Homo sapiens: one gene and its partners. The protein of the gene in region 1 purifies or fractionates together with the protein of each later gene. This does not show direct contact. Each region holds a gene or a part of one and is shown on either strand. Other genes may lie near its edges. The genes, in order: VASH1, NAA30 and ISOC2.

The links.
Region 2: the proteins of VASH1 (region 1) and NAA30 purify together in Homo sapiens (co-immunoprecipitation; one large-scale study listed by IntAct). This does not show direct contact.
Region 3: the proteins of VASH1 (region 1) and ISOC2 purify together in Homo sapiens (affinity purification with mass spectrometry; one large-scale study listed by BioGRID and IntAct). This does not show direct contact.

The regions. Positions count from the first base shown.
Region 1 is NC_000014.9:76,774,939-76,778,589, forward strand, and holds part of VASH1 (tubulinyl-Tyr carboxypeptidase 1), read left to right. Parts: intron 1-953; coding exon 954-1,335; intron 1,336-3,020; coding exon 3,021-3,133; intron 3,134-3,651. UniProt on the Homo sapiens protein: Tyrosine carboxypeptidase that removes the C-terminal tyrosine residue of alpha-tubulin, thereby regulating microtubule dynamics and function.
Region 2 is NC_000014.9:57,411,086-57,414,736, reverse strand, and holds part of NAA30 (N-alpha-acetyltransferase 30), read right to left. Parts: 3' UTR 1-3,651. UniProt on the Homo sapiens protein: Catalytic subunit of the N-terminal acetyltransferase C (NatC) complex. Catalyzes acetylation of the N-terminal methionine residues of peptides beginning with Met-Leu-Ala and Met-Leu-Gly.
Region 3 is NC_000019.10:55,455,518-55,458,747, reverse strand, and holds part of ISOC2 (isochorismatase domain-containing protein 2), read left to right. Parts: intron 1-2,258; 5' UTR 2,259-2,261; coding exon 2,262-2,399; intron 2,400-2,902; coding exon 2,903-3,112; intron 3,113-3,230.

The DNA of each region.
Region 1 (3,651 bases):
GTAGAGTTGTTAGGACAATGGGCCGAGCCGGTGCCGTGAGACGCAGCACAGTGCTGGACATGGTGTCTGCTACACGCTTCTATCCATTCATGTCCTTCTACCCATTTGTTCGAGAACTTTCACTGAGTAACTGTTGTGTGCCCGGCTTGATGCTGGGCCCTGAAGAACATGACAGACAAGGGCCCTGTGCTTGGGAGGTTTGCATTCTAGTGGAGGAGACAAAATAAGCAAGTAAGGAAAAAGAAGCAGTAAACACTGGTCATGGTGAGAGTGCCGTGGAGGAGGTGGACGGTGGCGCAGGCTCAGCTTCAGTCCTGAGCAGCAGCCAACTTTGGCAGGCAGGGGAAAAGGCCGGTGTGAGAAACTCAGGTGGGAGGCCCCGGGGGCTGGAGAGGTGAGCAGGTGGGGCAGAGGTGTAGGAAGTGGGAGTGGGCCTGGGGCTGGCTGGGGGCACCTCCCAGGCCTCAGTAGTACACGTGATTGTATTTGAAGGGCCACAGGCAGGGTTGCATGTGGATATGGGGAGAGGACAGGGTGAGGGTAAGAGAAGAGTGAAGCCGCGTCTGTGGCCTGTGTGTGTGCCAAGGTGCGGGATGGAGGGCGAGGGAGTGAGGCAGGGGAGGGAAGGCTTCTCTTCCGTCCTTGGGCCACTGGGCTCTGGAAAGCCCTGCAGTGTGGCACCAGCCCTGCTGGACTTCAGAGCGGTGGCCACAAATCCCTGGAAGCCCCGTGCCTATTCGAGGTTCCCTTTATTGAGCTCCAGCTGGATACCAGGCTCAATGCTAGATGGCAGGAATACCAGGAGGAGACGCCAGGCGTATGGAGATGAGCAGGACTGGTGTCTGCACCCCAAGGCTGGCGGTGCGTGGACCCCGTGGCTCCCGGTCCCAGTCCCTCCCGGTGTGCTGGCCCCGTGCTTCTCCTGGCTCTTTCCTTAGCGGGGCACTGGCCAGTTACCTCACCAACAGCATGCCCACCCTGGAGCGCTTCCCCATCAGCTTCAAGACCTACTTCTCAGGGAACTACTTCCGCCACATCGTGCTGGGGGTGAACTTCGCGGGCCGCTACGGTGCGCTGGGCATGAGTCGGCGCGAGGACCTGATGTACAAGCCGCCCGCCTTCCGCACGCTCAGCGAGCTCGTGCTGGACTTCGAGGCCGCCTACGGCCGCTGCTGGCACGTGCTCAAGAAGGTGAAGCTGGGCCAGAGCGTGTCACACGACCCGCACAGCGTGGAGCAGATCGAGTGGAAGCACTCGGTGCTGGACGTGGAGCGCCTGGGCCGCGATGACTTCCGCAAGGAGCTGGAGCGCCACGCCCGCGACATGCGGCTCAAGGTCTGCCCGCCTTCCACGCCCTCGCCCCCTCCCTCGCCCCCTCCCCCGCCCCAGCAGAGGCGATGTGAGGATTGAGAGGACTGGGGAGCTTCTCAGGGGACTGGGGTGCTGGGACCTTGCTTAGTGGTCGATATTGTTCAGGTGGTCCCCTGGGGTGGGCAGACCAGGACGGCTGCGGAGGGAGGAGGTGGGTGGGCTGGGTTTGGATGGTGGTAGGTGTTGGGCACATGGCAAGGTCACTGGTGGAGAATCACGGCCTGTCTGGAGGGTGTGATCGGGTGCTGTGATGGGCAGCCTCCCCACTCCTCCTGTAACATATCCTGACTCTGCCCCCCAACCCTAGCAACCATTAAAGGACTAGGAGGTGGTCAGAAGAAAGGGAAGTCAGACCATGTGGAAGACAATGAGGGCAGTGTTCCTTCTTCCTCTTCCCACCCACACTTGAGCAGGAGGTGATAGGGAGTTGGGCTGGGGGCTGTTGTACCAAAAACAGCTGGGCTGAGCTGTTGAGCCCTAGAGCCTTTCAGCAGGCAGAATTCTGACATCTGCCTGGGTTCTCCTGGGGCTGCCAGGGCCCCCTGCTGGGTATCTCCATAGCTCAGTCACTGCTGCACTGTGACTGCCCCTCCAGGCAGCCTGGAGCCTCCGCCTCAACCACCGACCTCTGCACTCCCAAGTGCACTGCTTCTCTTGACAGCCCTGGGAGGCCAGCGGGCGGTAGGTGGTAGCTCCATTTTCAGGGTTGGAAGCCCAGAGTCTTGCTCACTGGCAGTGAGAGGCAGATCAGACTGGAGCTCAGCCTCCTGATGGGGTGATGGGGAACCCAGGTGTGTTGCAGGTGCCTGCAGGTGTCCTGGCAGGGGTTTGTAAGAGCTACGGCTGCCCTAGCCATTGCCAGCCCTAGGCCAAGATCTCCTGGGGTGACAGTGCCTTCCCCTAGGGCAGAGGCAGGCTGCAGCCAACCCTGCGTTAGAGAGGGGCTGCTCTCTTCTGCCCCTGAGCTGCCGCTCCCCACCTAGCTCTGGGTCCCCCAGCACCCTGGCTCTTGCTCCTCAGTTTGCTATTGTGTCTTTAAGGCATCAGATTGGATCTAGGGTGAGAGCCAACAGTTCCCTAGTGTTTAGAGCTGTGATGGATTCCCAGCCTATTCAGTGCTAAACACTCACCTGTGTTACTTGCCCCTCTCCAGCACTCCTGCGTTTTGAAAACTCAAGTCAAGCTGACGGTGCCATATAAAGGATGACTCTTTTGTTTTTCTCATTTTTTTCTTAAGCAGAGCTAAAGCTACCAGTCTGACTTCTCAATGGCTGGAGATACCCAGCATCACCCTTGGGGTGAGTGGGATCTCAGCCCCAAGTTCAGTGTGGGCTGCTCCCACAACTGGCACGTTTACCTGGCCTTTGTTGGGGACTTTTTGCAATATTATGGTATCTCAGTGACTTCCCCCACTTCCACTCTGCCTTCAGGAGCCCACAGGGATTGGACAGCCCCATGGAGGAACTCCTGCTCTGGCAGCTTTAGTGCCTGGGAAATAGGTTGGGAAAGATCCAGACAGGGAAGAGCCATGCTTGAGGTTCCCCGGGCCTTCCCCAGGGCAGCCTCCAGGGACCTGTGGCTCCTGGAAGGAGAGGTTGGGCTCCAGGGCAGTCCTGGAGTGATGCTGTTGCTTCCTCCTCTGCACCTAGATTGGCAAAGGGACGGGCCCTCCCTCTCCCACCAAGGACCGGAAGAAGGATGTTTCTTCCCCGCAGCGGGCCCAGTCCAGCCCCCACCGCAGGAACAGCCGCAGTGAAAGACGGTGAGAGAGGGACCACGCCTGGGTGGGTCCAAAGAGGGTTTTTTTCCTTTCCTCTCATCGTGTGGGTCCCTTTTTTTTTTTATCTCTCTCCCACCCTTCTCTCTTTTTCGCTCCCACCCAAGGGAGGTGACTTGGGATGGTGGGTTTAGAGGTTTGTGTATTGACATTTCCCACAGCAAGGCAGTTCTACTTCCCCAGAGAAACCAAACTCTGCTAGCCCACTAGTCTGAGCATGGGTTATGTGAGAGAAAAGGTAGAAAGGATGGGGCCCCTGCAAGGCAGTGAGCCACCCAGGAATGTCATGGGGGAGGGCGTGAATATTAGATGGCTTTGAACATAACTTTGCCCCCCACCCAAGAGTCTGGTTTTTGTCTGTATCCAGGTAGCAAGAACAAGCCATTGAAATACCAGCTCTCCTCCTCTGATTTCAGCTCCTACACATCACTCTGACTCTTGCTTTAAATATAATTGTCATTCAGGAGCCACCTCTCTGGTATGAATTCAGGGGTGGGGTACTA
Region 2 (3,651 bases), about 19 Mb from region 1:
TACACTTACCAGATGACCAGCGAGGGTCAAAGGTAATACACTGCGGTGATGGAAGGCAGAAAAATTAATCTGGTTCTTCTAGAAGTAACATTGGCCTTTGGCCTCATCCCCATAAGTGGATCTTGGAGGTTAAAAACATGATAGACCTCCATGTTCCAACTTGACCACTCATGAGATGACCAATCTCATTTAGAAGTGAAATGATTTCAAATTCATCAAAAATGAGAAATTATTAGAGCCAACTATACAAATATTTTAAGGCTAAAAAGGTAAGTCTCATCAGAAACAACTTTTGGCACTTGAATCTGCATCTCTGCAACCCAAGGAACTTCCAACAATAAAATCTGAAAGGGCTGCTTTTCTCAGAAAGGCTACATAACAAGGGCAGTGGTTGGTGGGGTGGAAAGTGGTCAAACACTGTATTAATGAAATATATTGTCAGTATAAACAGTTCAGCTATACTCTTGCTCAGAGGTAATTTTTAGTTGTGTTATTTTAAAAGATTTTTCAGAAACAGTCTTGCTATGCTGTCCTGGCTGGTTGCAAACTACCATCTCAGCCTCCCAAAACGCTGGGATAATAGGCGTGAGCCACCACATCTGGCCTAATTGTGATCCTTCCATTTTATCTTTCAACCTATACAAACACTCCCTTCCTGTTATTACTGCTTATCTAAAGCTCTGCTGTCCAATACAGTAGCCACAAGCCACATGTGGCTAACTTTGATTAAAATTACAAATTCAGCTCAATCATCCCACCCACACTTCAGGGGCTCAGTAGCTACACATGTGACTAGTAACTACCATACTGGGGAGTGAAAAGGACACATCTATCCTTATATAAAGTGTGACTGGACAGTAGTGATCTAAAGTGTAGCAGTGCTATATGCTTATGAGATCTTTTAAAAAACTTTTTAAAAGTTGCTTATAAAAAGAATATCATAGGCTGGGCGTGGTGGCTCACGCCTGTAATTCCAACACTTTGGGAGGCCGAGGCGGGCAGATCACTTGAGGTCAGGAGTTTGAGACCAGCCTGGCCAACATGGTGAAACCCTGTCTCATACTAAGAATACAAGAAATTGGCTGGGCGTGGTGGCATGCACCTGTAGTCCCAGCTACTCAGGAGGCTAAGGCACAAGAATTGCTTGAACCCAGGGGGCAGAGGTTGCAGTGAGCCAAGATTGTGCCACCGCACTCCAGCCTGGGCAACAGAGTGAGACTCTGTCTCAAAAAATAAATCTAACACCTCTGGGCTACAGGTTAATACTGATCTGTGTTTACTGGTGTGAAAAAATGGTATCAACCTTCTGGTTCTTATTTAGACCTTAGAGTGAATTTATGAAGTATTTCGAGTTCCACATAAGGCCCAAATAAAACAAACTCAGATACTTTTACAGTATTACTCTAAAGAATAATGTAAAGATTTGGCATGCATGATAAAAGTAATTTAGCAGTTAAATGATTAAAACAGATCATTTCATCCTTCCACTAAAATCCGAAAATCTTGACATACAGAAGTATTCACAGCTATTTAAAGCTCCTCACAAGACAGGGGCAAAAAGCTCTTTGGATATTGCTCTATTTTACTTTGGTGTCTTACCAAGGGTGGGATGGGGTGGGGGGAACATTACAGAGTGGCAGTGTACAGACAAAAAAGTAAATTAAAATAAAAACTGTCTTAGAAATAAACTGCTATGAAACAGACTAAAAAGATAAACTTTTGACTGAACACATGGAAAATGTACCGATAACTGACATATGAGTTGACTGAGTACTTTTAGAAAAATCAAGTTCATGTTATTTTCAAATTTACTTTGTCAGAACACACAACAGTGATGACAATTATGTAATACTTCTTCCCCGTAACTCTTAGATGAAAGGCAGGAAGCGGGAAACAATATATTGTTTGTTGCTGTTTTACTTAGTAGGTAAAAGCAAAACAACCCAATCATAAAATGCACACAGCTGTATCTAAAAGAAAAATGCAAACACAACTTAACCATACTTTATTTGACTGCATCTTATTTAGACAGCTTGCACATTTCAAATCCCATTAAATCTCTCTCCAAAAGGATATGGGACAATAGAAGAAAATTATGCAGCAATATCCAGTCAAACAGCAGTCCAATATTTTGAGATACACGTGATATTTTATAGATACTCAACTCATATCTGACGTCAATATAATTTATGGTTATGTTTTTACAAACCTGAAAGCCCTGTAACATTACAGCACTCATTTTAGTGATGTCATGGTGCACTGAAAAGTAACTCTGATGTACTACCAATTTGATTTTATCTATACTCCTGAAAAGTGATGAACTTCATGATTTTTAGACACCATAATAAATATACACATCCAGTCTTAGACATGTCAGCCAGTACCATAACACAGGGCAAGGTAAAGTTAAAACATGAAAAAACAAACTGCTTTACATAGATTTGTCGAGCAAGTGGGAAGGGTAATTTGGGAAAGAGGCAGAAAATATTAAAATCGATTTTTTATTTTTTCTTATTTTGCTGGTTTCAACTTCAAAAACTACCGTCTGGTTTCTGATCTGTGGACTTTGCTAAAGTAGTTTCATCCCAATGTACAGGAAATACAGGAAATTATAATCAGCCCACACATCAAAAATGATAGTATACCCGTTAGCTTCTTCAATACTAACATATATAGCTTCATGGTAGCATGTATAAAAATGTTCAGCAGTACCAACTGCCAAACCAGTGTCAGTGGATAGTACAGTCAGTCCTAAAGAGGCAGCACCCCATTAAAAGAAAGTTGCATCTATTTTGCTCAGTTGTAGCCAAGTGAACCCATGCTACCAATTTCAGATAGAATTGTTTTAAGCTTATTTAAGAAAAACAACAGCCTATTATCAAAAAGTAAATTACTGTTTGAGGCTACTTCAACCTGAATGGAGTCTTTCAGTGTTGGTGCTGGGTTTTCATGCTAGAGGTTAAAATTTTAATCTACTTAAGTAAAAATTTTTTTGCATACCCAATTAAAGACATAAGGCATACACTGACATTCAACATATTCCAAACAATATGGCAACCATCTGACTTTTTAGTCACACAGTTAACGTCATCTTTACAAACACCCAACCAGTTCAGTCAATTTGGCAATTTTGGAGGAAAAGGTCAGTATGATGGTTTCATTGACAATCTGGCAAAAACACTAAAATGGTTGAACCAATGATCTATCTACTTTACAACCATCCCTATTAGTGATTTAAGCAAATATATGTTCATCAACCATTATGTATCAACCAGCAAGTCAAATATAAAGAAGTGAAATAAAATTTGATGACATAAATGTTTTAGTTCCATTTCCTTCATATTAAATAACAAAAGCATCACTGTGATTGGTATTCTTCTAAATGCTAGTGCCTAAATGAAGTTTGACCAAAAACATATTGAAAGGCTGAGTACTGTGTGGTTACCATATTTTTATTATAACCAGTATTGTATTCTGCTCATTAAACTTTCAAGAGCAATATAAAAAGGAAAACATTTTCTTTAAAAATAAAGAACTATAAATAATCCCACCAGCAGAAAGTTTTTATTTTCAAATATAAATTGTGTATCTTTATTTTTAAAGTATTTGTTACTATGTTCACTTTCAAAACACTATACTGAGCAAAGAGCA
Region 3 (3,230 bases), on another chromosome or scaffold:
AAGACCAGCCTGGCCAACATGGTGAAACCCCATCTCTACTAAAAATACAAAAATTAGCCAGGCATGGTGGCACAAGCCTGTAATCCCAGCTACTTGGGAGACTGAGGCAGGAGAATCCTTGAACCTGGGAGGCAGAGCTTGCAGTGAGCCAAGATCGCGCCACTACACTCCAGCCTGGGTGACAGAGCAAGACTCCATCTCAAAAAAAAAAAAAAGAAAAGAAAATAGCAGCTTCTTGTTGAGTGCCCTGCCTCCCTCAGCTTCCCAGAACACCTTCTGTCTTGCCTCCAATGAGCCTCCAGGGTCTCCCATTTCCCTGGTGAATTAATGAATAAATGAGTTAAGTACAAACAAATTGTACACACAGACGGGGAGAGAGCTGCAGACAAAAGCCCAGCCCAAACCCTCACTTGTGCAGCAAACTCGGAGACCCAAAAGCACAAGCCTCCCAGGGACGTAGGCCAAGACGTGCTGATTCAGGGCCCCTGCGGTGTAGACGCTCTGACAGCGTAGACGCTCTGACCGAGTGGAAGTCAGGTGTGCCCTGTATGGCTGCAGGACTTAGGGCAGGTTAACGGGCCCTCTGGGTCGAGGTTTCCTCCCCTGCAAAAGAATTGCTGGCCAGGTGGCTTCACCAGCCTGTCCTTTTTTTCTTTCTCTTCTTTTCTTTCTTTTCTTTTTTTTTTTTAATTGTGGTAAAATGCACTTAACATAAAACTTACCCTTTCAGCCATTTGAAAATGCAGTGGAGTGGCATTCATAGTCATGCTGTTCTGCAGCCGCCACCACCAAGTCCCAGAGCATTTTCACCATCCCAAACTGAAAACTACACCCCCCAGCAGTCAACCTGAATTCCTCCCGGCCACAGCCCCTGGCAGCCAATCATCTGCTTTCTTTCTCTTTTTTTTTTTTTTTTGAGATGGAGTTTTGCTCTTATTGTCCAGGCTGGACTGGCAGTGGTGCTATCTCTGCTCACTGCAACCTCCGCCTCCCAGGTTCAAGTGATTCTCCTGCCTCAGCCTCCCAAGTAGCTGGGACAACAGGTGCGTGCCACCGTGCCTGGCTGATTTTTGGTATTTTTAGTAGATATGGGGTTTCACCATGTTGGCCAGGCTGGTCTCAAACCCCTGGCCTCAGATGATCCGCCCGCCTCGGCCTCCCAAAGTCCTGGGATTACAGGCGTGTGCCACCAAGCCCAGTCTCTTTTTTTTTTGAGACAGAGTCTTGCTCAGTCACCCAGGCTGGAGTGCAGTGGTGTGATCTCGGCTCACTACAACCTCTGCCTCCTGGGCTTCAAGCGATTCTCCTGCCTCAGCCTCCCGAGCAGCTGGGTTACAGGCACCCGCCACTGCCTGGCTAATTTTTGTATTTTTAGTAGAGACAGGGTTTCGCCATGTTAGCCAGGCTGGTCTTGAACTGACCTCAGCTGATCCGCCCACCTCAGCCTCCCAAAGTGCTGGGATTATAGGCGTGAGCCACTGCGCCCGGCCCCATCTGCTTTCTGTCTGTGGATTTGCCTGTTCTGGGCATTTCAGGAAAACGGGATCGCACGCTCCGTGGTCTTTGTGTTGAGATCTATCCAGGTTGTGGCCTGTGCAGGGTCCCCCTTCTTTCCTATGGCTGAAGAATATGGCCTCAGTTTCCTCTTGGAGCAGGGTGAGGATCAGGGTGGACCCTTCATTCAGGAGGCCCTGGGGAGTGGGCTGGCCCAACACAGGAGGACGCCCAGCAGAGCCTCCGTTTTGGGGCTGATGGTAACCAGGGCTGACAGTAACCGGGGCTGATGTAACCGGGATCTGATAGTAACCGGGGCTGATGGTGACCAGGGCGGATGGTGACTGGGGTGGATGGTAACCAGGGCAGATGGTAACTGAGGCTGATGGTAACCGGGACTGATAGTAACTGGGGTGGATGGTAACCGGGGCGGATGGTAACCGGGATCATGAAGCACTCCTTGACGTTGTGCACAGTCCTCAGCAAGGAGAACACAGGGACCAGGAGAGGGACACCCGGAGCCACGTGTGGATGTGGCCCAGAAGGCTTCCCAAGGAAGTCACCTCCCTGCCGAATAGGACAGAAATAAGAAAGAAGCCCATTCTAGGCCCGGGGAACAGCAGACACAGAGACCTTGAGGTGGGAAGAAGGTTGGCAAGGTGCCCCGGGCCCTGCCAGGCTCTGAGTGTGAGGACCTGGACGCCAGCTGGAGACACTGAGAGGAGCCCTCGGGCCTGACCCACCGTCCCTCTGCCCACCCCCAGAAAATGGCGGCTGCCAGGCCCAGCCTGGGCCGAGTCCTCCCAGGATCCTCTGTCCTGTTCCTGTGTGACATGCAGGAGAAGTTCCGCCACAACATCGCCTACTTCCCACAGATCGTCTCAGTGGCTGCCCGCATGCTCAAGGTATGACCTCAGCCCCCCACCCTCAGACCCAGGATCCAGGCTCAGCCCTCCACCCTCAGACCCAGGATCCAGGCTCAGCCCTCCACCCTCAGACCCAGGATCCAGGCTCAGCCCTCCACCCTCAGACCCAGGATCCAGGCTCAGCCCTCCACCCTCAGATCCAGGATCCAGGCTCAGCCCTCCACCCTCAGACCCAGGATCCAGGCTCAGCCCTCCACCCTCAGACCCAGGCGTCCAGGCCCAACTCCTCTTCCTTCAGACCCAGGGATCCAGGCCCACTTCCTCTTCCCTCAGACGCAGGAGTCCAGGCCCAGCTCCTCCTCCCTCAGACTCAGGAGTCCAGGCATAGCCCCTCCTCCCTCACACCCAGGAGTCCAGACCCCCAGCCCCTCCTCCCTCAGACCCAGGAGTCCAGGCCCAGCCCCTCCTCCCTCAGACCCAGGAGTCCAGGCCCAGCCCCTCCTCCCTCAGACCCTGACCTTTCTTCCCCATCACTGGCACAGGTGGCCCGGCTGCTTGAGGTGCCAGTCATGCTGACGGAGCAGTACCCACAAGGCCTGGGCCCCACGGTGCCCGAGCTGGGGACTGAGGGCCTTCGGCCGCTGGCCAAGACCTGCTTCAGCATGGTGCCTGCCCTGCAGCAGGAGCTGGACAGTCGGCCCCAGCTGCGCTCTGTGCTGCTCTGTGGCATTGAGGCACAGGCCTGCATCTTGGTGAGATGCTGACTGACCCCAGGGGTCCCTCGTTCTAACCTGGGACCCCCATCCTAAATAGAACCTCCTTCCCTGACCAGAAACCTCCACTTCCCTGCAGGACCCCCATCCTGACCTG